Linked DNA regions of Homo sapiens. The protein of the gene in region 2 interacts with the protein of the main gene of each other region in a biochemical or structural test. Each region holds a gene or a part of one and is shown on either strand. Other genes may lie near its edges.

What was found. Proteins that work in one complex are often made in the same cells at the same time.
Region 1: the proteins of SNTA1 (region 2) and ATP2B2 interact in a test that uses a peptide from one of them, tested with the Homo sapiens proteins (one study listed by BioGRID).
Region 3: the proteins of SNTA1 (region 2) and WWTR1 interact in a test that uses a peptide from one of them, tested with the Homo sapiens proteins (2 studies listed by IntAct, with this or other methods).

Annotation. Positions count from the first base shown.
Region 1 is NC_000003.12:10,495,587-10,502,586, forward strand, and holds part of ATP2B2 (plasma membrane calcium-transporting ATPase 2), read right to left. Parts: intron 1-7,000. UniProt on the Homo sapiens protein: ATP-driven Ca(2+) ion pump involved in the maintenance of basal intracellular Ca(2+) levels in specialized cells of cerebellar circuit and vestibular and cochlear systems.
Region 2 is NC_000020.11:33,412,751-33,419,845, forward strand, and holds part of SNTA1 (alpha-1-syntrophin), read right to left. Parts: intron 5,174-7,095; coding exon 4,969-5,173; intron 1,885-4,968; exon of another isoform or gene 33-1,884; coding exon 1-32. UniProt on the Homo sapiens protein: Adapter protein that binds to and probably organizes the subcellular localization of a variety of membrane proteins. May link various receptors to the actin cytoskeleton and the extracellular matrix via the dystrophin glycoprotein complex.
Region 3 is NC_000003.12:149,655,026-149,662,576, forward strand, and holds the start of WWTR1 (WW domain-containing transcription regulator protein 1), read right to left. Parts: upstream 3,001-7,551; 5' UTR 2,740-3,000; intron 2,285-2,739; 5' UTR 2,282-2,284; coding exon 1,851-2,281; intron 1-1,850. UniProt on the Homo sapiens protein: Transcriptional coactivator which acts as a downstream regulatory target in the Hippo signaling pathway that plays a pivotal role in organ size control and tumor suppression by restricting proliferation and promoting apoptosis.

The DNA of each region.
Region 1 (7,000 bases), on a different chromosome or scaffold from region 2:
GGGAAGCTGATGTCTCCACTCAGCTCAGAATTTCCTTCCCCTGAGGTCATGGGGCAGACTCAGGCCTCTGAGAGGGCAGAGAAGTGCCTAGAAACAGCCCTGGGTCCCAGTGCCAGGTCTCGCTTAATTTTATTGCTACTCCCTGAGTGCAGGAGTGGCCCAGGCCACATACTCTTCACCACACTGACCCCATTTTGTAGATAAGGAAACTGAGGCTCTGGAAGCTCTAAATACTGTGGTGGTGAGGCTGAGTCTTGGTCCTGGAAGTTATTCATGGCCTAGCCCCCAGGCAGGGCACCCGCAGTCGTATACCACCTTCTACCTGGGGCTGCCTCCGCCTCCCAGCAGGAGTTGTTTCTGGAGCTGATTCATCTCTGAGCTCAGCAAGGAGCCCGACAAACAGCCTGGTCCACACCAAATACTTAGCTAATACTGGTTTTATTGATTTGCATTCTATGCCCTCTTCAGGATGCTCTGAGCTCAGAAATCTGAAATTGGCTGGGGGTGGGATGGGGAGAAGGGCTTCATTTTAATCTGAAGTGAGTCATGTAAGTTGATAAATTTAGAAGTGGCCTAAAGAGCTCTTAATCTGCTGCCTTCAGATAGTTGCTAGGAAGAGACTGGCACCCAGCAACCTTTGCATCCCAAATCCACATAACAGAGTGGACACTGTTGGTGCCCACCCTAGTCCTCCTTACCGGTCTGCAGCTTCCACACCCCAGCTGCTGGGAGCTAGAGCTCCCGGCTGCCCCTTCTTTGCAGGCTTGCCCTGGGAAGAACAGGAGCTCCTGCCCGGGCAATTGCACACAGCATCCCACTCAGAAGGCAGCCGTGGCCAATAACTATCTGATATGGGGTATGAAAGGCCAGCTTTTTTGCTTCAAGGCAGAGCCAAACCTGGGGCGCAGTTCATGCCCCACATCCCCCAAGGGATCAGCTGAGGCCACACGCTTGTTTATCTCTTTCTCTCCCTACCTTGTTTCCTTTCAGCCCCTTTCTCCTGAGCGCTGTCTCATGCTTGCTCCTAGTGAGTCCAACCCAAGATCCACACACATTGCACTCCACACGCAGACACTAGCTCCACCCCTCCAACCCCGCCCCTTCCCCCGTGACCTGGACATCAGCAATGTCCAGGCAGCTTCGAATTTTAGACATTTAAAGTCTCAGGGGGCCCATCTGGCTCCAAAAGGCTTGTTTCAAAGATGGGAAACTGATGCTCAGAAAGAGACTGTGACTTGTCCAAGGTCACTTGAAGTGCTTGTCATGGCTGGCTGCACCCAGGTCTTTGTCCTCCCCCCAACTCCAATCCACTTTGTGGCCCTAGCCTGTCTGGTGGCTGGACCAACGGGCCAGCCACGGCTTTTGCTGTCTCCAGGAGGGAATTTTGCTGTGTCAACTCTGCAGAAGCCACTTGGAGGCCAGGAGAGTGCTGGCTGGTGGGCTTGCAGGATGGTTGGCAGGCTCTGCTGACCTTGGGCAGCTGTGGGCAGGGTGGGCATCCCAGTTAGGCCCCTTCCACTGTTTGTGGTGGTCAGGCAGAAAATTGAGGGAAGACAGAAACGACTTCTAATGAGGGCCCTAATTACCCTGTGGATCCCTGAAGCACTGGTGATGTATCTGCTGGTGGCTTCTTCTAGAAACCCTCCTCTCCATGGCAAGAACTGCTTTCTCCATAAGAGAAAGAGTCCTGAACCAACATGGGCAAAGAGGCAGCATTGGGCTGGTGCCTGGACATTGGGCTGTGGTTCCAGTCTGCTGGGAGCTGGCTGTGTGATCCTGGGCAAACCAGCATGCCTCTTGGCCCTTGGTTTTCTCAGCTATAAAGCAAGTGCAGCCTCAACTGCTATTATTTTATTGAGCCTAGTGTTTATTTTAGTATCATTTATTGAACTAGAAGAGACTCATTAAAGTTCATCAAATAATAATTGCTTACACTTCTGCCAAGGGCTGTCCTAAGCACTTTAATTTTACTTAATCCTCACAACAATCCTATGAATTGGACACTTTTGTTATCCCCATTTTACAGATGGTGGGACTAAGGCACAGAGAAATTAAGAAACTTGTGCTGGGTCACACAGCATGGAAATGGTGGAGCAGGAATTAGAATCCCAGAGTCTATGCTTTAAATTCCTCCTTGTACTACGGTCTTTGCTGTTTGTTTTGCACGGCCATTTATTAAGCACCTACTGCATATGGGGACTCTGCTGGTCACGTAATACACACAAAAGTTTGCCGACTTCTCACAGCTGCTCCGGCAAGCAGGTGTTCTTTTGCTGATTGTTTCAGAGTGGACACAAAGGACCCAGTGAGGGACTCACCGCAACTGAGCTGGGGAGGCAGGTGGCAATCCTGGCTTCTTCCCACCAGCCTGGTGGCTCTGTTCTGAGCCCCTTATAAAACTGATCTTATTTATCATATTTTCTTGACTCTAACCTGTATCACTACTTTACGTATATTTAAGAAATAAAAGGCATGGCTGGTTCCACTGTGGTGTAACACCAGTTGTCAGGCACAACCTGGCTTCAGAAATGTCAAAATGTATATCTTGGAATCCGCACAGTTCAGTCTCCGACACAACGGCCTGATGAGGCAGGCAGTGTTGTCATCTCCATTTGACAGTGGAGGGAACGGAGGCTTGGAGATTAAGGACATGCAGCTGGTCAGCGGCCAGGCATTGGATGTGACCCCAAGCAGCCTGGGCCCAGATGTTGTCCTCAACTACTGCGCTACATCAACGCTAAGTCAGGCCCACGTAGGATGGCGTGCCCTGCCCATGGGCACAGATCAAAAAACTTCAGAAGGATCAGTGAGCTGGAGGCCAGCACCCTCTGCTCCGGATGAGCCTGGGGGCCTCACTCAGCGTGGATGCCTCAGGCATGCAGGAGGCACCCCAAATGGCTGCCACAGCATTCCCCGCCCACTGCCTCCACAGCTCCCTTGGGCCTGCAAGGCAGGTGTTTGACAGAGCTGGGCTAGAATGAGTTCATCCAGATGACGCCCCCATGGCTCCCACAAAATGGTCCCGGGGCAGCCAGACATGGCCCGGTAGAGTAGCCCAGCCGGCACAGGAAAGGCACCACTTTATAGGAAACTGCCTTCAGAGGCAGCACAGAAGCTTGCAGAGACCTGCTTTCTTCCTTCAAAGCTACATGGTGCTTGGACCCCAAACGGTGTCATCCATTCACTGCTTCTCCCATAGGCTCCACCAATCCCATATGCTCCACTATGGCACGACTGCTCCCAATTTTCCCAAATCAAATCCACCCTCCTTGGACTAGGATGTGCCCCTTCTGGGGACATCTTTAAGATGCCCACAAGCAGGGCAGAAGCTCAACATATTTCGAATGCCTGGCATGATGAGGGTTCCATTTGAGACATTACCTACCCATCATCTCGTGGCACAATCTTGTGAGGCAGGTTTTTCCCACTCCACTTTGCATATCAGGATGTCAAGCTCAGAGAAGCAAAGCTACCTGCCCAAGGTCACACAGTAGTAAACACTGGCATTAGGATTTATACTCAAATCTTTCTGATGCCACAAAGGAGGCCACTTTCCATCAATTTCTGGCGAGGCCCTGAGCCAAGTGCTTCCTTTGCATTACTTCACCAAATCCTCATACAACAAATAATAGCATCATCATAATACTACCACTATCCCATCTTACAGGCAAGAAAACATCCGCTGAGCCTCTACCTGGACCACACCCGGGCCAAGCCCTGTACTTGGATCCTGTTTGCCTCACGTGACAACCGGGAAGATGGGTGCTCAGCTAACCCTTGGTTTACGGAGGAGCAAACTGAGGCGAAGTCACTGGTTCAACCACACACAACCGAACGCACATGACTGAATAAGCAATTCCCCTCCCACGCATTACATGGGAAAACAAAAAGCATTTGTAAAGTGCTTGCGGACACATTTTAGCGATTAGTACTATTATGATGAACATTTCGGTACTTGGCAATTACCCCATAAAGTCAGTGCTGCTGCCCCTATTCTCCGGAAGAGCACAATGACGTTCACAGAGTCAGTGGCAGAGACAAGGAACTGTGGCTCTCAATCCTCTGCCACATGTTGGTCTCCTGGGACCACGGCTGGGCCCCTTCACACCTTGAAGCTCCCCTGCCTGTCTCCAGCCTCTCTCTGGTGCCCAGGAGCCCCTGCAGACCTGGGGTCTTCATAGGGCTGGCTGGAATTCCTGCCCCATGGATTCCTAGCTGTGGGCCCTAAGGGGTCTCTGGGCATCCCCCAGCCAGCTACAAAAAGGTGGAAAGGTGAAGGAGCACCAGGGACCTGGGTTCAAATCCCAGCTCTGCCCCTCACTTGCTGTGTGACTTGGGCACATTCTTTTTTTTTTTTTTTTTTTTTTGAGATAGAGTCTCACTCTGTCACCCAGGCTAGAGTGCAATGGTTCCATCTTGGCTCACTGCAACCTCCACCTCCCAGGATCAAATGATTCTCCTGTCTCAGCCTCCTGAGTAGCTGGATTACAGGCATGCACCACCAGGCCCGGCTAACTTTTTTTGTATTTTTAGTAGAAACGGGGTTTTGCCATGTTGGCCAGGCTGGTCTCGAACTCCTGACCTCAGGTGATCCACCTGTCTTGGCGTCCCAAAGTGCTTGGATTACAGGTATGAGCCACTGCGCCTGGCCTGACTTGGGCACATTCTTAATGTCTCTGGGCCCTGGTTTCTGTAATCCGGAAAATGGGTGATGGTGAAGAAGAGATAAGACTGTGTGCAGGTCTTATGAGCAATAAACACCTCATAAATCTTAGTGACTGCAGTGGGTTGAACGGTGTCCTATCCAAAGTTCATGCCCACCTGGAACCTCAGAATGTGACCTTGTTTGGAAATAGGATCTTTGCAGATGGAATTAGCTAAGGATTTTGAGATGAAATCATCTTGGGTCTAGGTTGGGCCCTAAATCCAATGACCAATGTCTTTAGAAGCAGAGGAGAGGACACCGAGAGACACACAGGAAGGAGTGAGGTGAAGATGAAAGCAGAGATGGGTGTGACGCAGCCACAAGGTGAGGAAGAGCAAGGGTTGCTGGCCACTGCCCGTAGCTAGGGAGACAAGGGACAGGCTCTTCCTCAGCCTCTCCAGGAAAAGCCAACCCTGCTGGCTCCTGACTCTAGACTTCTGGCTTCCAGAAGTGGGAGACAATACACGTCTGTTGTTTGAAGCCACCTAGCCTGTGGTCATTTGTTATGGCAGCCACAGAAAACAAACACAACGGGCTGTCCCTGCAGTTGCTCTCCTTGCTACTTCCTGAGACTTGCAGTGTTTCTGACCCTTCACCCCAAGGGGCAGTGGGCAGGAGAAGCTGCCCTCACCAAGGACACTGGGGGGCAGGATCACTGACCCCTCTCACAAGGGGAGAGCTTGGGACCAGAGGGCTTACACAGCTTTTCCAAGGTCACTCGCCAGTGATGAGCCGGCCTGGGACCCAGCTCTCCTGACCCTCAGACCAACACACTCTCCCCCATACCCAGGGACCTCTGTTTCTTTAGGAACCTGAGCTGTGGCCCCTGCTCGGGCCTGGTCACTTGCCCTCCTGGTCCTGCCAGCCGTGGTCTCTGGCCACATATCTGGAACTCTCTGACCCTGCAGAGATTTCCTAGACTGTGAATGACACTTCTAAGGCTTTTACCGTCACTCCCGCTTCCCCCTGCCTCCCGCCGCCTCCATCCAGACTGTCAAGTGAAGACCGGGGTGAAGCCGAAGCCACACTGCCCAGCAGGAGGTCCCAGGAGTTTTCCATAGCATAACCCATTTTTTAAACGGTTTTTTTTTTTTTTTGAGACAGGGTCTCGCTCTGTCATCCAGGCTGGAGTGCAGTGGCACAATCACGGCTCACTGCAGCCTTGACCTCCCGGACTCAAGCGATCCTCCCACCTCAGCCTCCTGCATAGCTGGGACGACAGGAGTATGCCACCACACCCTGCTAATTTTTAAATTTTTTGTAGAGATGGGGTCTTGGAGAGTGCCCTTGGAGCATGGCTCCCAGCTGTCTGCTGAGAAGATGGCCTTGTTTTGGATTTGAGGGTTCATCGGTCCTCAGGAGGGCCTGATTTAGCTGTGCAGGGTGAAGCCAGGGGCTAGGGGTTGGTAGGGGACTGGTGGGGAGAGGAAATGAGTTTCAGTCTCATTCAGTCACCCACTAGGCTGGAGACCTCAGTTTCCCCACGTGTGACAGGTACAGGCAGAACAGCATGGTGTCTAGGCCACCCCCAGCTCTGAGCGCCTATGTGCTCCACCAAGCCCACTCTTAAGCACCTCAGCTCCCCAGGGTGCGGAGTGAAATGGGTGAAAACCCAGGGGTACCTGTGGAAATGTAGCCCCTGGGACCTCCTGATTCATCAAGGTAGGGCCCAGAAATCTGCCCCCATCAGGTGATCTTTAGGTTAATTAATGCATTAATGGGTTTCCTGACCCATACCTGTGGCTGGGCAGGGGGAAGGCAGAGGAGGGCAGTGGGACAGCAGGCGGATGGGCCAGTGTTTCAGGCTCTGCACATAGCATAAGCCACAGGCAGCTTTTCTGACCTCCGATCTGCAAACTAGAGATTTCTTTCCTTTTTTCCCTTTCTGATCTCAGAGTTGGCCAGTTGCAGCAGCAAGGTGCTCACCTGCTCCGGCTCCTGATCCTGATGCCAATCACACCTTCGTGCACAGCCCTCTACAGTGTCCAGGGCTCTCTGGCAGCTGTGGCATAAAACAGGGCAGAGATAGGCCTGCCTGGCCACAGATGAGAAGATTGAGGGCAGAGAGAGGAAGTGACTTGGCCAAGATCACACAGCTGGTCAGGAGCAGGGCTGGGCCCAGGGCTCTCATACTTTCCACCCACAGTCAAACACCTGGGGAAAACCAGGGGCCAACACAGGCCTCTGCTGCTTCTTGTCTGGGGCCTGAGAGCACTTGCAAGAAGCCCAGGTCTCTACAGAACACGGTGTGACCTTGGACAAGTCCCTGTGCCTGGCTGGGCCACAGTTTCCTTT
Region 2 (7,095 bases):
CTTGACCATCTGCCGAGCAGATCTCCAGATACCTGCAGGCACAAATGGGTGGAGACAAGGACCTGACCATTAGGCTGCAGCTGCCCAACCCTGGCCCAAGAAACCCCACCCACCACCAAACCAGGAGAAACCAGGGGGATGTCCGTGAGAGAATCAGGAGCAACCCTCACTGCTGGGCTCCAGCCACAGTTGCTGGGGCTTCATGGGGCATAGGAACAAGCGAGTGTGACATATACACACGTGTTCATATATTTTGTGGGGTTTTTGTTGTTGTTTTTGAAACAGAGCCTCGCTCTGTCACCCAGGCTGCACTGCAATGGCCCAACCTCTGCCTCCCAGGTTCAAGTGATTCTCCTGCCTCAGCCTCCCAAGTAGCTGGGATTACAGGCACACGCCACCACACCCATATAATTTTTGTATTTTTAATAGAGATGGGGTTTCACCATGTTGGCCAGGATGGTCTCGATCTCCTGACCCCGTGATCCGCCTGCCTCAGCCTCCCAAAGTGCTGGGATTACAGGCATGAGCCACCATGCCTGGCCTTATTTTTTTATTTTTAGTAGAGATGGGGTTTCACCAAGTTGGCCAGGCTGGTCTCGAACTCCTGACCTCAAATGATCACCCCGCCTTCGCCCTCCAAAGTGCTGGGATTACAGGCATGAGCCACCGTGCCCAGCCTACACGTATGCAGATACACACAAATATACACACACACTGAAACATGCATGATGGTGTAATAGGGCCTAAATTATTGCTGTGTGGCTATTCCTAATCTTGCCCCTTTCTCCTGGTTTCTAAGGAACATCCTCTTCTGGGCCAGCTCCCAGGTTCTCCTTGTTGCACAGAACCAAACTAATTCACTAATAAGAGCAGGGGAAAAAAAAAAAAAAAACTAAGCTGGACATGGTGGCTCACGCCTGTAATCCCAGAACTTCGGGAGACTGAGCCAGGACGATGGCTTGAGCCCAGGAGTTCGAGACCAGCCTGGACAACAAAGTGAGACACTCATCTCTAAAAAAGAAAAAAAAATTTTTTTTTTAATTAGCCAGGCATGGTGACACGTGCCTATAGTCCCAGCTACTTAGAGGCTGAGGCAGGAGAACCACTTGAGCCCAGGAGTTTGAGGCTGCAGTAAGCTATAAGGGTGCCAGTGCACTCCAGCCTAGATGACAGCACAAGACCTCATCTTAAAAAAACAGAAAAACAGACAGGGTGTGATGGCTCACGCCTGTAATCCCAGCACTTTGGGAAGCCAAAGCGGGTGGATCACCTGAGGTAGGGAGTTCAAGACCAGCCTGATCAACATGGAGAAACCCCATCTCTACTAAAAATACAAAATTAGCTGGGTGTGGTGGCACATGCCTGTAATCCCAGCTACTAGGGAGGCTGAGGCAGGAGAATCGCTTGAACCCAGAAAGTGGAGGTTGTAGTGAGCTGAGATCGTGCCATTGCACTCCAGCCTGGGCAACAAAAGCGAAACTCCGTCTCAAAAACCAAAAAAAAAAAAAAAAAAAAAAAAAAACAGAAAAACAAAACAACAACAAAACTAAAGAGGCTTGAGGCCAGGCATGGTGGCTCACACCTGTAATCCCAGCACTTTGGGAAGCTGAGCCGGGCAGATCACTTGAGGCCAGGAGTTCAAAACCAACCTAGCCAACAGGGCAAAACCCCATCTCCTCTAAAAACACAAAAAATTAGCCAGACGTCATGGCGGGCACCTGTGGTCCCAGCTACTTGGGAGGCTGAGGCACCAGAATCACTTGAACCTGGGAAGCAGAGGTTGCAGTGAGCTGAGATCACACCACTGCACTCCAGCCTGGGTGACAGAGCGAGATCCCCCATCTCAAAAAGAAATAATAAATTATTGTTTTCTAAACCACTAAATTTTAGGGTTGGTTTGTGATACAGCAACAGATAGCCAAAATACTAGCAGAAAAGACTCTTTGGCTTTTGTCTTATTTCTGCCTGGAATATGAACACAATTCTTGGGATGCAGCCACCATCCTGCCTCCACGAAGAAGAAAACCGCCCATAATTAAAATGGTAGAGCAGGAAGCTAGAAGCCTAGTTCCTTGATGGCATCCTTGAGCATCTACAGCAGCCTGAATAGCTGACCCCTGGACTTCTTTTTAAACATGTGGGAAAATTAACCCCTTTTATTTAAGTCATTGCTTGTTGGAGTTTCTGTACTTGCAGCCCAGTGCAATCCTAACACTGAGTAAAAGTTTGAAGCAGTTTTCATTATATTTTGGTTGCCAGGCTGTATCCCTATGACTGGGATACTGCACTGACAGTGGGCCATATGGAACCCCAGTTATATTGAGGTTACCTATGTAGGTACTCAGGCATGTACATGTTAAAACACACATGCACACACATATGTGCATACACATACAAATAACATATAAACAAACACACATGTACAAATCTATACTCATACATGCAAATGCTCTCATATATACATACAAGCACTTGCATTTACATGTCATCTACACGTGCGCACACTTAGAAACATATACACACGTTTCAGGTAATGTCTGGGATCAGGCTGGGAATCTAAGGTTCTATGAGTCTCTAGAAGGACTAATACTACTTCACCTTCACACTCACAGAAGGCCCTTCCGGGCCGGGCATGGTGGCTCACCCCTGTAATCCCAGCACTTTGGGAGCCCAAGGTGGGTGGATCTTGAGGTCAGGAGTTTGAGATCAGCCTGGCCAATGTGGTGAAACCCTGTCTCTAGTAAAAATACAGCCGGGCGCGGTGGCTCATGCCTGTAATCCTAGCACTTTGGGAGGCCGAGGCAGGCAGAATGCCTGAGCTCAAGAGTTCAAGACCAGCCTGGGCAACATGGTGAACCCCCGTCTCTGCTAAAATACAAAAAAAAAAAAAATTAGTCAGGCATGGCGGCGTGCACCTGTAGTCCCAGCTACTCAGGAGGCTGAGGCAGGAGAATTGCCTGAACCTAGGAGGCGGAGGTTGCAGTGAGCTGAGATTGTACCACTGCACTCCATCCAGCCTGGCAACAGAGAAGACTCTGTCCCAAAAAAAAAAAAAATACAAAAATTAGTCTATTAAAAATACAGGCGATGGCTCATGCCTGTAATCCTAGCACTTCAGGAGGCCAAGGTGGGCGGATCACCTGAGGTCAGGAGTTCCAAACCAGCCTGACCAACATGGTGAAACCCCATCTCTAATAAAAATACAAAATTAGCTGGGCATGTTGGCAGGTGCCTGTAATCCCAGCTACTCAGAAGTCTGAGGCAGGAGAATCGCTTGAACCCGGGAGAAGGGGACCGCAGTGAGCCAAGATTACACCACTGCACTCCAGCCTGGGCAACAGAGCGATACTCCGTCTCAAAAACAAAAACAAAGGCTCTTTTTTAGAGCATCGGCAAGTGACCTGTGAATCACCAGTTTTTGCCTCATGGGGGCAGGCAAGAGGTGTGGCATCGAGTGAGACCAAGAGATTTGGATGCTGGACGTTAACCAGCCCTCCCAGCCAATGTTGGGCATTTGCTTGGCATTGAACCTAGGCTGTCACTAGGACCCACAGCCCAAGCTTGTAATGCATATAGCAGTTAAGCATCACCTCCAACAATGCATATCCCACTTGACCAAATATGCTCCATTTAGCCACCACCATCACTCAGGTATCTTGCACCTTCCAAAGCAGAAAGGACTACCAGGATTGAGGCAAGTGCCACCCTTTCTGGTTGTGTGATCTCAAGTAGGTTACTTCCCCTCTCTGTCCTCATCTATAAAATGGAGGTGAGCCGGGAACGATGGCTCATGCCTGTAATCCCAGCACTTTGGGAGGCCGAGGCAGGCAGATCACCTGAGGTCAGCAGTGCGAAACCAGCGTGGCCAACATGGTGGAACCCCATCTCTACAAAAAATACAAAAGTTAGGCAGGGCACAGTTGCTTACACCTATAATCCCAGCACTTTGGGAGGCTGAGGCGGGGGAATCACCTGAGGTCAGGAGTTCGTGACCAGCCTGACCAACATGGAGAATCCCGTCTCTACTAAAAATACAAATAATTAGCCAGGCATGGTGGCAGGCGCCCGTAATCCCAGCTACTTGGGAGGCTGAGGGAGGAGAATTGCTTGAACCTGGAAGGCAGAGGTTTCAGTGAGCCAAGATCATGCCATTGCACTCCAACCTGGGCAACAGAGTGAGACTCTGTCAAAAAAAAAAAAAAAAAAAAAAAAGTTAGCCAGGTGTGGTGGTGGGCGCCTGTAGTCCCAGCTACTTAGGAGGCTAAGGCAGGAGAATCACTTGAACCCAGGAGGCAGAAATTGCAGTGAGCCAAGATCTTTGCACCACTGCACTCCAGCCTGGGCGACAGAGCAAAACTCTGGCTCAAAAATAATAATAAAATAAAATAAAATGGAGGTGAAATAATAGGACTTTGCCCATTGGGCCTCTGTGAGAGCTAAATAATATTGCACAGGGAAAGCACTCAACACAGTGCTGGGTACACAGTAAACACTCAGTAAATGTTAGGTGGTTTCAGTATTATCAATGAACTGTTAAAGGCTGCTCAGATGTGAAGGATGTAACCTTCCATGGCCCTGATAAAAAGGTTACCAGACATCTCAGAGCTCCAGCAGAGTGGGAAGAGACGAGAGGATCAGTGAGTCCAACAACCTCATCTCACAATGGAGAATCTAAAGGTCAGTGAGGAAAAGGGCCTAGTTCAAAGAGGACCAGGACTGGAACGCAGGGTTCTTCCTCAGACCAAGTTCATCCCCAGATGTGAGCTGCCCAGAGGAAGAAGTGAGAAGCAAAGCACACCATCATCTCCATGGCTTCACTCAGGCTTCCAGTCAATCTATTTTTTAAGCACCTACTATGTCCTGGCATTGTGCTGGTCATTCGTACAACACAGAGGTGTCTTTCCATTGGTCCCACCACCTGACGCCAGGGCATCTGTCCATCTGAGTTGCTCCCAACCCCAGCCTTACCTGGGCTCCGGGTCATTGGGGGTGCACCTCTTCGAGACATATGCCATCTTCAAGGACATGTGTTTGGCCTCGCTGAAGTTCCGGGGTGTGGGGCCAGGGGAGGAAGGCTGCCGCTGAAGGGGTGAGGCAGGAGGTGAGTCCCAGCCGACCGAGGTCCCACCAGTAGAGTTCTTGAAATACGGTGAGACGTCCTTCATATACTTGACTGATTGGGAGAGACATCAGCAGTCACCACTGTGACATGGGCTCCCAGCACATATCACAATTGTCACTAATTTATTAAGAGTTTAATTTACGTGTCACTATTAGACCCTTAGTAAGCAAGAGTCCAGTAGTGATATTAACAAATTCTTCTAAGTTAAAGTCTCTGACAGGGCAGTGGAGCAGAAAATACTGTATCCCTTCTCTCTATCCCTATATAGAGATAGGGCCCGCCTATATCCCTTCTCTCATTTTCCCCATGGTTAATAGACATACAGCCACCTGGAAGAAAGACTCTATTTCCCAGCCTCCTTTGCAGTGAGGTGTGGCCATGTGACTTTTTTTTTTTTTTTTTTGAGACAGTTTCTCTCTGTCACCCAGACTAGAGTGCCATGGTGTGATCACAGCTCGCTACAGCCTCAATCTCCCAGATCAATCAATCCTCCCACCTCAGCTCCCCAAGTAGCTGGGTCTACAGGTACGCACTACCACACCCAGCTATTAATTTTTTGTAGAGATGGGGTCACGCCATGTTGCTGGTCTTGAACTCCTAGACAGTGTATACAAGAAGGTGGTTACAAGACTTTCCCAGGCTGGGCATGTTGGCTCATGCCTGTAATCCTAGCACTTTGGGAGGCCAAGGCGGGCAGATCATTTGAGGTCAAAAGTTTGAAACCAGCCTGACCAACATGGTGAAACCCCGTCTCTACTGAAAATACAAAAGCTAGCCGGGCGTGGTGGCTCGCACCTGTAATCCCAGCTACTGGGGAGGCTGAGGCAGGAGAATCACTTGAACCCGGGAGGAGGAGGTTGCAGTGAGCCAAGATTGTGCCACTGTACTCCAGCCTGGGTGACATAACAAGACTCTGTCTCAAAAAAAAAAAAAAAAAAAAAAAAAAAAAAGACTCCCAGGCTGGGCATGGTGGCTCATGCCTGTAATTCCAGCACTTTGGGAGGCCAAGGCAGTGTGGATCACTTGATGTCAGGAGTTCAAGACCACCCTGGCCAACAAGGTGAAACCCTGTCTCTACTAATAATACAAAGGTTAGCTGGGCAGGGTGGTGCATGCCTGTAATCCCAGCTACTCGAGAGGCTGAGGCATGAGAATCACTTGAACATGGGAAGCAAAGGTTGCAATGAGCCAAGATTGCGCACTCCAGCCTGGACGATGAAGTGCGACTGCCTCAAAAAAAAAAAAATGATGACTTTCCCAAGACCTTGTCTCTCTTCTCCCAACAAGGATATACCCTCTGTGGGTGCCTGATGCCTGCTAGCCCGTGGGCAGCCTCTCTTCCTCTGCTCTCAACCACACCTGCTCCCAGGGCCATCTGGCTTGCTAGCTATCTGACGTCTGCAGTCAAAGCCCAGCCAACGTGCCCTGTGAGTGGACAGCCCAGGAAGGAGTTAGGAAGTAATTCTTGGCCCACCTCCCTGGAAGAACCAGATAAGAAGCTATTTCTGTCGCAGGAGATGCCTCTGAGGCTCAGATAGGATTCAAAGCAAATGGAGGCAAATAAGAGGGAGTTACAAACCCTATTGGGGTTGGGATAGAAGCAATGTTGAAAGAAACCAGGGTCAGGTTTTTTTGGGAGAAGCAAGCCTGGGTCTGACTTTTGGGGACTAGGACTCAAATGACTTATCATCACTGTAGCAACGACTTACCCCAGGACTGACTATTGGATTATGTCTCAAAGGGCAGCAGAAGTGGGACATATCACAGCCTACTTGACAGCCAAAAACCATCTCCCCTCTTTTTCCTTTGCTAAGAGAACCCTGAGCCCTAGAGGCTCAGCTTCTCCCCAGCTTAGAGGGAGAATCTTGATTGGTCAAATCAAATCATGATCATTCCATCCTTTTTGCTTGTGATTGGTTTAGAAAGGGGCAAATGATACAGTTCTGGCCAATGAGATGTGAGGAAAAAAACAC
Region 3 (7,551 bases), on a different chromosome or scaffold from region 2:
TGAGGCAGGAGAATGGCGTGAACCCGGTAGGCGGAGCTTGCAGTGAGCCTAGATCGCGCCACTGCACTCCAGCCTGGGCGACAGAGCGAGACTCCATCTAAAAAAGAAAGAAAGAAAGAAAGAAAGAAATCATGTAGGGCTGGGCATGGTGGCTCAAGCCTGTAATCCCAGCACTTTAGGAGGCCGAGGCAGGCAGATCACTTGAGGTCAGGAGTTCAAGACCAGCCTGGCCAACATGGTGAAACCTCGTCTCTACTAAAAATACAAAAATTAGCCAGGCGTGGTGGTGGGTGCCTGTAATCCCAGCTACTCAGGAGGCTGAGGCAGAAGAATTGCTTGAACCCAGGGGGCGGAGGTTGCAGTGAGCCGAGATTGTGCCACTGCACTCCAGCGTGGGCGACAGAGTGAGACTTTGTCTCAAAAACAAAAACAAACAACAAACAACAACAACAAAAGTCATGTTATTACATCATATTCTTGACTCCACCAGCTACTTAGAAGTCAAAGGACTGAGCACATGTCCAAACTATCACTCAATAACCCAGAGAAGACCAGCTGTGGCATAAATGACCATCAAGTCTGTTTCAGAATCTCAGCATTACACCAATCTCAGAAACAACAAAAGAACTCCTTGGACAAGATATCAACAGCCTTGAGATGGGGAAGTAATAAGAATTGGTCACTGGTATGAATCAATGGGCTCACTATAGTAAACTTCATCCATCACTGTGTATTCATTCTTAGGGCTCTCTCATAGCAATCAGAGCATCAAATATTAGTGCCAAAGAAAGGCTTGATTAAACTTTTAAAATTGTACATAGTGTCTTCACTTTTGCACTAAGGCTACTCTACTAAAGAAATATGGGCTTTAAAATGAAGTCTAAGTCAAGTTCTTAGGAGAGGAGTTTCCCTCACTGGCAGTGCAGGCAATCCTGAAACAAGTGGTTAGGCTGGCACAACCTCCATCTTTGATAGCCTGACCCTATGACCTCAATGGAACATTTCAAGTTCCAGCCTGGTTTCTCCTGAGGAATGTAGTTATCTTAGGGTACCACAATTGAAACAACCTCCTCTAGTGTTTGAGAATATATTTTCCTGTGGGGTGTAATTTGAAAATTTCAACTAATGTAAAATTCATGACATCAAAAAGCTGGAACAATGTGAAAGGAAGAAGAGTGACAAAGCAGGCTTGTGATTTGATGGTATTTTAGGTTAACAAGTTTAATGTAATAAAACTCCTAACAATTTCCACACGATTGATTTGTCCAGCCCACAACTACTCCACCACACAGTTGCTAATAACATCACTGTGCTGTGTGGTCATTATGTCACCCAGCTGGGAGCACTATGGCCTACCAACCACTGTTCACTTTTCCAGCTTGCTTTTCCCAAGAAGATAGAAACTGCAGACCACCTACTTCACCAAAAGTCCCTCTGTTCCCCAAGCTTCACAGCTTTTCTCTGATTTATCTCGGTGTCACATCCCAAAGGGCCTGGCTCTGGACTATCTGACTTAGAGTGGCCAAGGAAGGGACTAAGGGTCTGTGCCCAAGAGTTGGCTTCAGTCCTGCAGATTCAAGGCAAAGTCACCTGTGTGTTTTATGGTGGATGAACTTCACCACTGCTTCTGATCCCTGCTTCTGATCCCTTACAATTCCAACACTCAGAGACTCACTCCCTGCTTCCAGCTCTCCATATCTGTGAAATAACCGTGGAAGGACACGCACCATCTCTCTCTTTCTCTCTCTCTCTCTCTCTCTCTCTCTCACACACACACACACACACACACGAACACACGCGCGCGTTGGGCACTGTGACTTGGTGCCTTCTTCGGCTCCAGGCTGACTTACTTGAGGAAGTACCTCTGGCCAGTGGCCGTGAAGGTCATCTCCCAGCCCGGGGGCAGTGGCAGCTCGTCGGTCACGTCGTAGGACTGCTGGCGGAGGTGCGCGTGCTGCTGCGCGGGGCTACCCGCAGCACCCGCGCCGGTGCCCAGCTGCAGGGACGCGGGCGACGAGTGCGAGCGGACATGCTGGGCACCCCCAGCCAGTCGAGGCCCCGGGTGGCCGCCCGACGAGTCGGTGCTGGACTGGCGCGAGTGCGAGCCCGAATCAGGCTCCTTAAAGAAAGACTCCGGCAGGATCTTCTTCCGCCACGAGCTAGGCTTCGGATTCATGACAGAGTTGAAGAGGGCTTCGAGGTCTGTGTCTAGGTCCTGCGTGACGTGGATCACTTGCTGCCCAGGCGGCGGGAGCGGAGGGGGCGCCGAGGCCGGATTCATCTTCTGCAAAAAGAAGGTCAGATCAGCCTTTTATTTAAAGTCGGAGGAAGTGGGTAAGAGGGTTACAGGGTGAGAGGGCGAGATGGTGGGAGAAAGAATAGAGGGAAAAGGAAACGAGGAGACAGATAATTGCCCGCCTGGAGATCCCAGACACTCAGCGGTAAGACCAGCAGGATGGGGGAGGGGTCCCTCCTGGCCTCGAGAATTATGCAACTTTCTTGAAGCAAAGAAGTTGCCTGGAGGAGGAGAAGATAGGGCGAGGGGTGGAGGGAATAACTGCACTCGGGGCTTGCTGAACCGCAGGATGGCAAAGGAAAGGTCGCACGATTCCAGGACAGGCAGCCCCCCGAAAGAAGTTCAGCCCGAGCCAACTCCACCACGTCTCGACTCCGGAAGCCCGAGGAGCCTGGAGCCCTGGAGTGGTGCCGGATGAGCGCGCGAGCTCCAGCGGGCACTACCTGGGCGGGCAGCGAAGCTGAGCCTGAGCGCGCGGCGGCCGCCGTCCCGCCCGAACTTGCCGTCGGGCCTGGGTCGCTCGGGTGAGTCCCGAGATTGCGGAGCTGGAGCCGAGGCTTGGCTGACAAATCCCGACCCGACTCTGTGCCTGGCAGTCTAAGGGCTTCGGCTCTCACATCCCCCGAGCTGGCCTAAGGCGCTAGTGCTGGGCGAAAAGGAGGCGCAGGAGAAGCAGACAGCGCGGCCGCAGCAGCTCCCGGACTGTCCCATAAACAAAGTTTGGAGCAAACTCCCACCCCCAGGAAAGAGGCGGGCCCGAAAGTTGAGCTGTTGAATTATGTATGACCTCCTAGTCCCTAGCCGGCCAGCCCCCGCTCGCCCCTCCTCTTCCTCCTCCTCCTCCTCCCACCTCGGCTCCAGAAAACCCTGGGCGTGATGGGTACTTTACTGGGTAAGAGGAGACGGGTGCCCCCCACCCACTCCTCCCGGCCGCGCGGACCTCTCCCGCTCAGACCTGCATCTGCATTCCTTTGAGTTTACCACGGACTTGGGGCGGGATCAAAGGGAAAGTGGCCTGAGCCTGTTTCATCAAGGGGTTGTGGACCGAAACCAAGGCCGGGGGTGGCGGAGGGCACGCGGATGAGGGGCTCAGGCCTAGGAAGGGCCGGTCCTGGACACCGCGCCCTCCCCTGCAGCCAGGCGCCGAGGCCTGCAGCACCCGGAGCGCCGCACTGACCCGCGATTCTGCCCGAAGGCCGGCCCGGGTGCGCCCCGGCGCGGGGAGACACCAACAAGGCCAGCTTTTCCACGAGAGGCTGCTTAGCTCTTGTGACCATATTTGGTCTGGCGAGGAGGCATCTTGGCTGCCTGGCTCTCAATTGTCTGCTAGAGCACAGACGGTGCCCAGAAAGTGCCTCTGTCACTGGAGATGCGGCTTCGCCAACGGGTGGGTTGTAAACAAACAACTTTCAAACCATTCATCAATCCTTAATTTCCTCTACGGGGGTGACTCAGGCCACTAGAGATTGAGAAGAAAAAGCTGGGTGTTGGAAGAGAAGAGCAATTGCACCCCCCTCCCCCGCAACATCCGTGAGGGTTGTGGGAGGATTGGAATGTCCCTGCCGCCCTCCGGGGAGCCTGGAGCCGGGATGGAACCCGAGCAGGTGGCTGGAAGTAGAGAGGGTGCGCCAGTGACCCGAAAAAAGCCACCCACCTTCCCACCAACTAGATCTGGGCGAGGGATGGAGACCCCCTGCCTCTAGCTAAGGGAAGAAGGTCAAGTCTGGCGAAACAGCTGCGGGAAGTAGGAGGAGGCCTTGCCCTTCAGAGCAGCTCAATTTCTTTTCTCTCTGGTTGCCTCTCCACTGAGGGGAAAGGGTGGGGGGAGATGGCGAGGTAAGCCAAATTCCAGGAAGCCCCTACTCCACCCCATTTGATTCAAATAGGAGTTTATTAAGTAAATCAAACGAGACAATGTAAAGCACTTCGCACAGCACCGGGCTGGTTACGTAAGTGTTTGTTAAATAAAAGAGAACTGTATGTTCTTCAAGTTCACGTATTGTGCCTTAATTTTTTTTTTTTTTTTTTTGAGTGACGTCTCCCTCTTGTCCCCCAGGCTTGAGTGCAATAGCTCCATCTCAGCTCACTGCAACCTCCGCCTCCCGGGTTCAAACGATTCTCCTGCCTCTGCCTCCCAAGTAGCTAGGATTAAGACGCCTGCCACCACGCCCAGCTAATTTTTGTATTTTTTAAAAGCAAAAATGGGGTTTCACCATGTTGGCCAGGCTGGTCTCAAATCCTGACTTCAGGTGATCCGCCCGCCTCAGGCTCCCAAAGTGCTGGGATTACAGGCATGAGCCACCGCGCCCAGCCTGCCTTAATATTTTTACAGGGTAAAATAAAGTCGAAGTTAAAATCTGGAGCTGCCTTGGAGGAGAAAAGTTTAAGGAAAAGACAAGGCCACTCATAGTTTTGCCTCGGAAAAGGTAGAATTTTGGGGCCACTCCCTGAATGGCTGCATCCATATCCAAAACAGAACCACCAAAGTGAGCCACTTCCCCTGTTATCTGTACTTGGAGGTGGCTCCAATTCCAGACTCCTCATAGACTGGAAGAAATTAGGGCCATCTTAGACTAAGGCAGGCATACACGTATCATCCTTTTTTTTTTTTTTTTGAGATGGAGTCTCACTCTATTGCCCAGGATGGAGTGCAGTGGCATGATCGCGGCTCACTGCAACCTCTGCCTCCCTGGTTCAAGCAATTATCCTGCCTCAGCCTCCCGAGTAGCTGGGATTCTGTGCAGCAAGTCCTCTGCCCATAGGACTGGCAAAAGGAAAGGGGAAACTAGCACAGGTCACTCCTTGGAAAGTAGAATCTTTGCAAGCTACTCTCAGAAGCCATCACAGTTGCAACAACAGGGGAAATAAGCTATCGAACAAGAGGAAGTGACTGGAACCTAATGATACTAATTCAGAAGTCACAAGGCTGACTTGATGATTAAAAGATGAAAACTTGAGGCCAGCCCTACTCTAGGAAAGTCCTCACTCCCGAAGAAAGGTGAGAATCAGGGTTGGAATTAGATGGGCAGTGAGAATCTGGGTTGGAACTGGATGGGCAAGGATGCAGTCTTCGTTTCTTTCCAAGCTTCAAGAAATAGATAGTGCAACAGATAAAGTAGATGTATGAAACGGAAATTGCCCTTAACACAGGATAACTGAAAAACTCCCAGTTCCCAAATAGCATATAAGATGTAATAGTGAATAATTCAAAAGATTTGCTGTTGTCCCAGCCATTCCAACAACAGCTTCAGATTAAATAACATTTACAGATGTCTTGTATGTATCAGGTACTGCCCGTAAGAGGCAGCACAGTGGATAAGTGTATAATTTCTGGAACAAAACAGCTGAGTCACTTCAGACAAGACATTTAAGCTCTCTATTCTTGGGTTTCCTCCTTTGTAAATTAGGGACAATAACAGTACCCACCCCACAGGATTCTAGGTGAAAACACATACACATTTTATTTGTTGATATTTGATTTAGAACACAATATTTGAAGCTGGCTCTATCTGCTACATTATGCAAGTAGCTTAGCATTCCTAAGTCACAGTTTACTCATTTACAAATTGGAAATAATATTGTGGTAGTCTCTCTGCTGCGTTGCTGCCTTTCAATGGCCCAGCCTCATGTTATTTATACCTTTACGTAGCCCCTTCCACTTAATCTGGACTGGGCCAGTGATTTGCCTTAACCAGGAAAATGTGGCAGTGAAGTTGTGCCACTTCCCTGCCTTTCCCATCCCATCCCCTAGGAAGGTATGGAAGCTTCCACTTTGTACTTTTAGGAGACCTGAGCCACTAAGTAAGAAGTCCAGTTACCCTGTTGGATAAACCACATGGAGAAGGAAAGGCCCTGAGATACTTGGAGAGAGGGAAAAGTCCAGCTGCCCAGCACCTGAGCTGAGCCCAGCCTCAGCCAACCCCACCGGCTGACTGCAAACACATCAGTGACCACCAGTAAGACCAGCAGAGCTGCACAGCCAAGCCCAGCCCAGATTGCAGAATTGTGAGCAAATAAAATGGATATTGCTTTAAGCCACAAAATATTGAAATGTTTTTTAAATGTAGAATGTGCATTCTAAGAATAAAAAGTTGCAAATAAAGTCTTTTTTTTTTTCTCAGACAGGGTTTCACTTTGTTGCCCAGGCTAGAGTGCAATGGCTTGATCTCAGCTCACTGCACCCTTCACCTCCCAGGTTCAAGTGATTCTTGTGCCTCAGCCTCCCGAGTAGTTGGGACTACAGACGTGCACCACCACGCCTGGCTAATTTTTGTATTTTTTTAGTAGAGGCAGGATTTCATCATGTTGGCCAGGCTGATCTTGAACTCCTGGTCTCAAGTGATCCGCCCACCTTGGCCTCCCAAAGTGCTAGGATTATAGGCTTGAGCCACCATGCCCGGCCACAAATAAAGTTTTTTTTTTTTTTTTTGAGACGGAGTCTTACTCTGTCACCTAGGCTGGAGTGCAGTGGCACAATATCAGCTCACCACAACCTCCACCTCCCGGGTTCAAGCGATTCTCCTGCCTCAGCCTCCTGAGTAGCTGGGATTACAGGCACCCACCACCACACCTGGCTAATTTTTGTATATTTAGTAGAGACGGGGTTTCACCATTTGGGCCAGGCTGGTCTTGAACTCCTGACCTTGTGATCCACCCGCCTCCACCTCCCAAAGTGCTGGGATTACAGGCGTGAGCCACCTCGCCCGGCCAAATAAAGCTCTTAACACAAAGCCTGCTTAACATAATAAAGCACTCAACAAATATGGCTGTTTTGTTTCATGGAGACCTAAAGATAAGGAAACTGGATCGATGAGTTAGAAAGTATTTTGTCCAAATATATACAATGAAACCATGTTAAAAAAAAACAAAAAACCCTGAGATTCAGCCCAGGGTTGTAACTCTAGAGCAGAGTGCATTCTCCAGACTGCATCCTGTGTGAGCCAGGAGTTGCTCCCTGGTATTGCCATTTTAAATCGTGTGATACTTTTTGTCTGACTATCTCATAAAGAAACTCCACAGCTTTTATAAGATAATCAGTTGAGAGCACACTCCTGCTGATAGATATGTAAATCTTTCCATTTGCAAACACTTTCCAACAAAGTCCATGCCTGCTTCTAAATCCTCCCCACAACACACTTCCTACTGAAGCTTCTCCTGAGTCATCCCTTTCTCTTCCCTCTGTTCACATCCAATCAGCGGCAAATGCTATTGATTCTTTCTTCTAGTGTCCCCCAAAATCCATGCTTCCCTTCCCA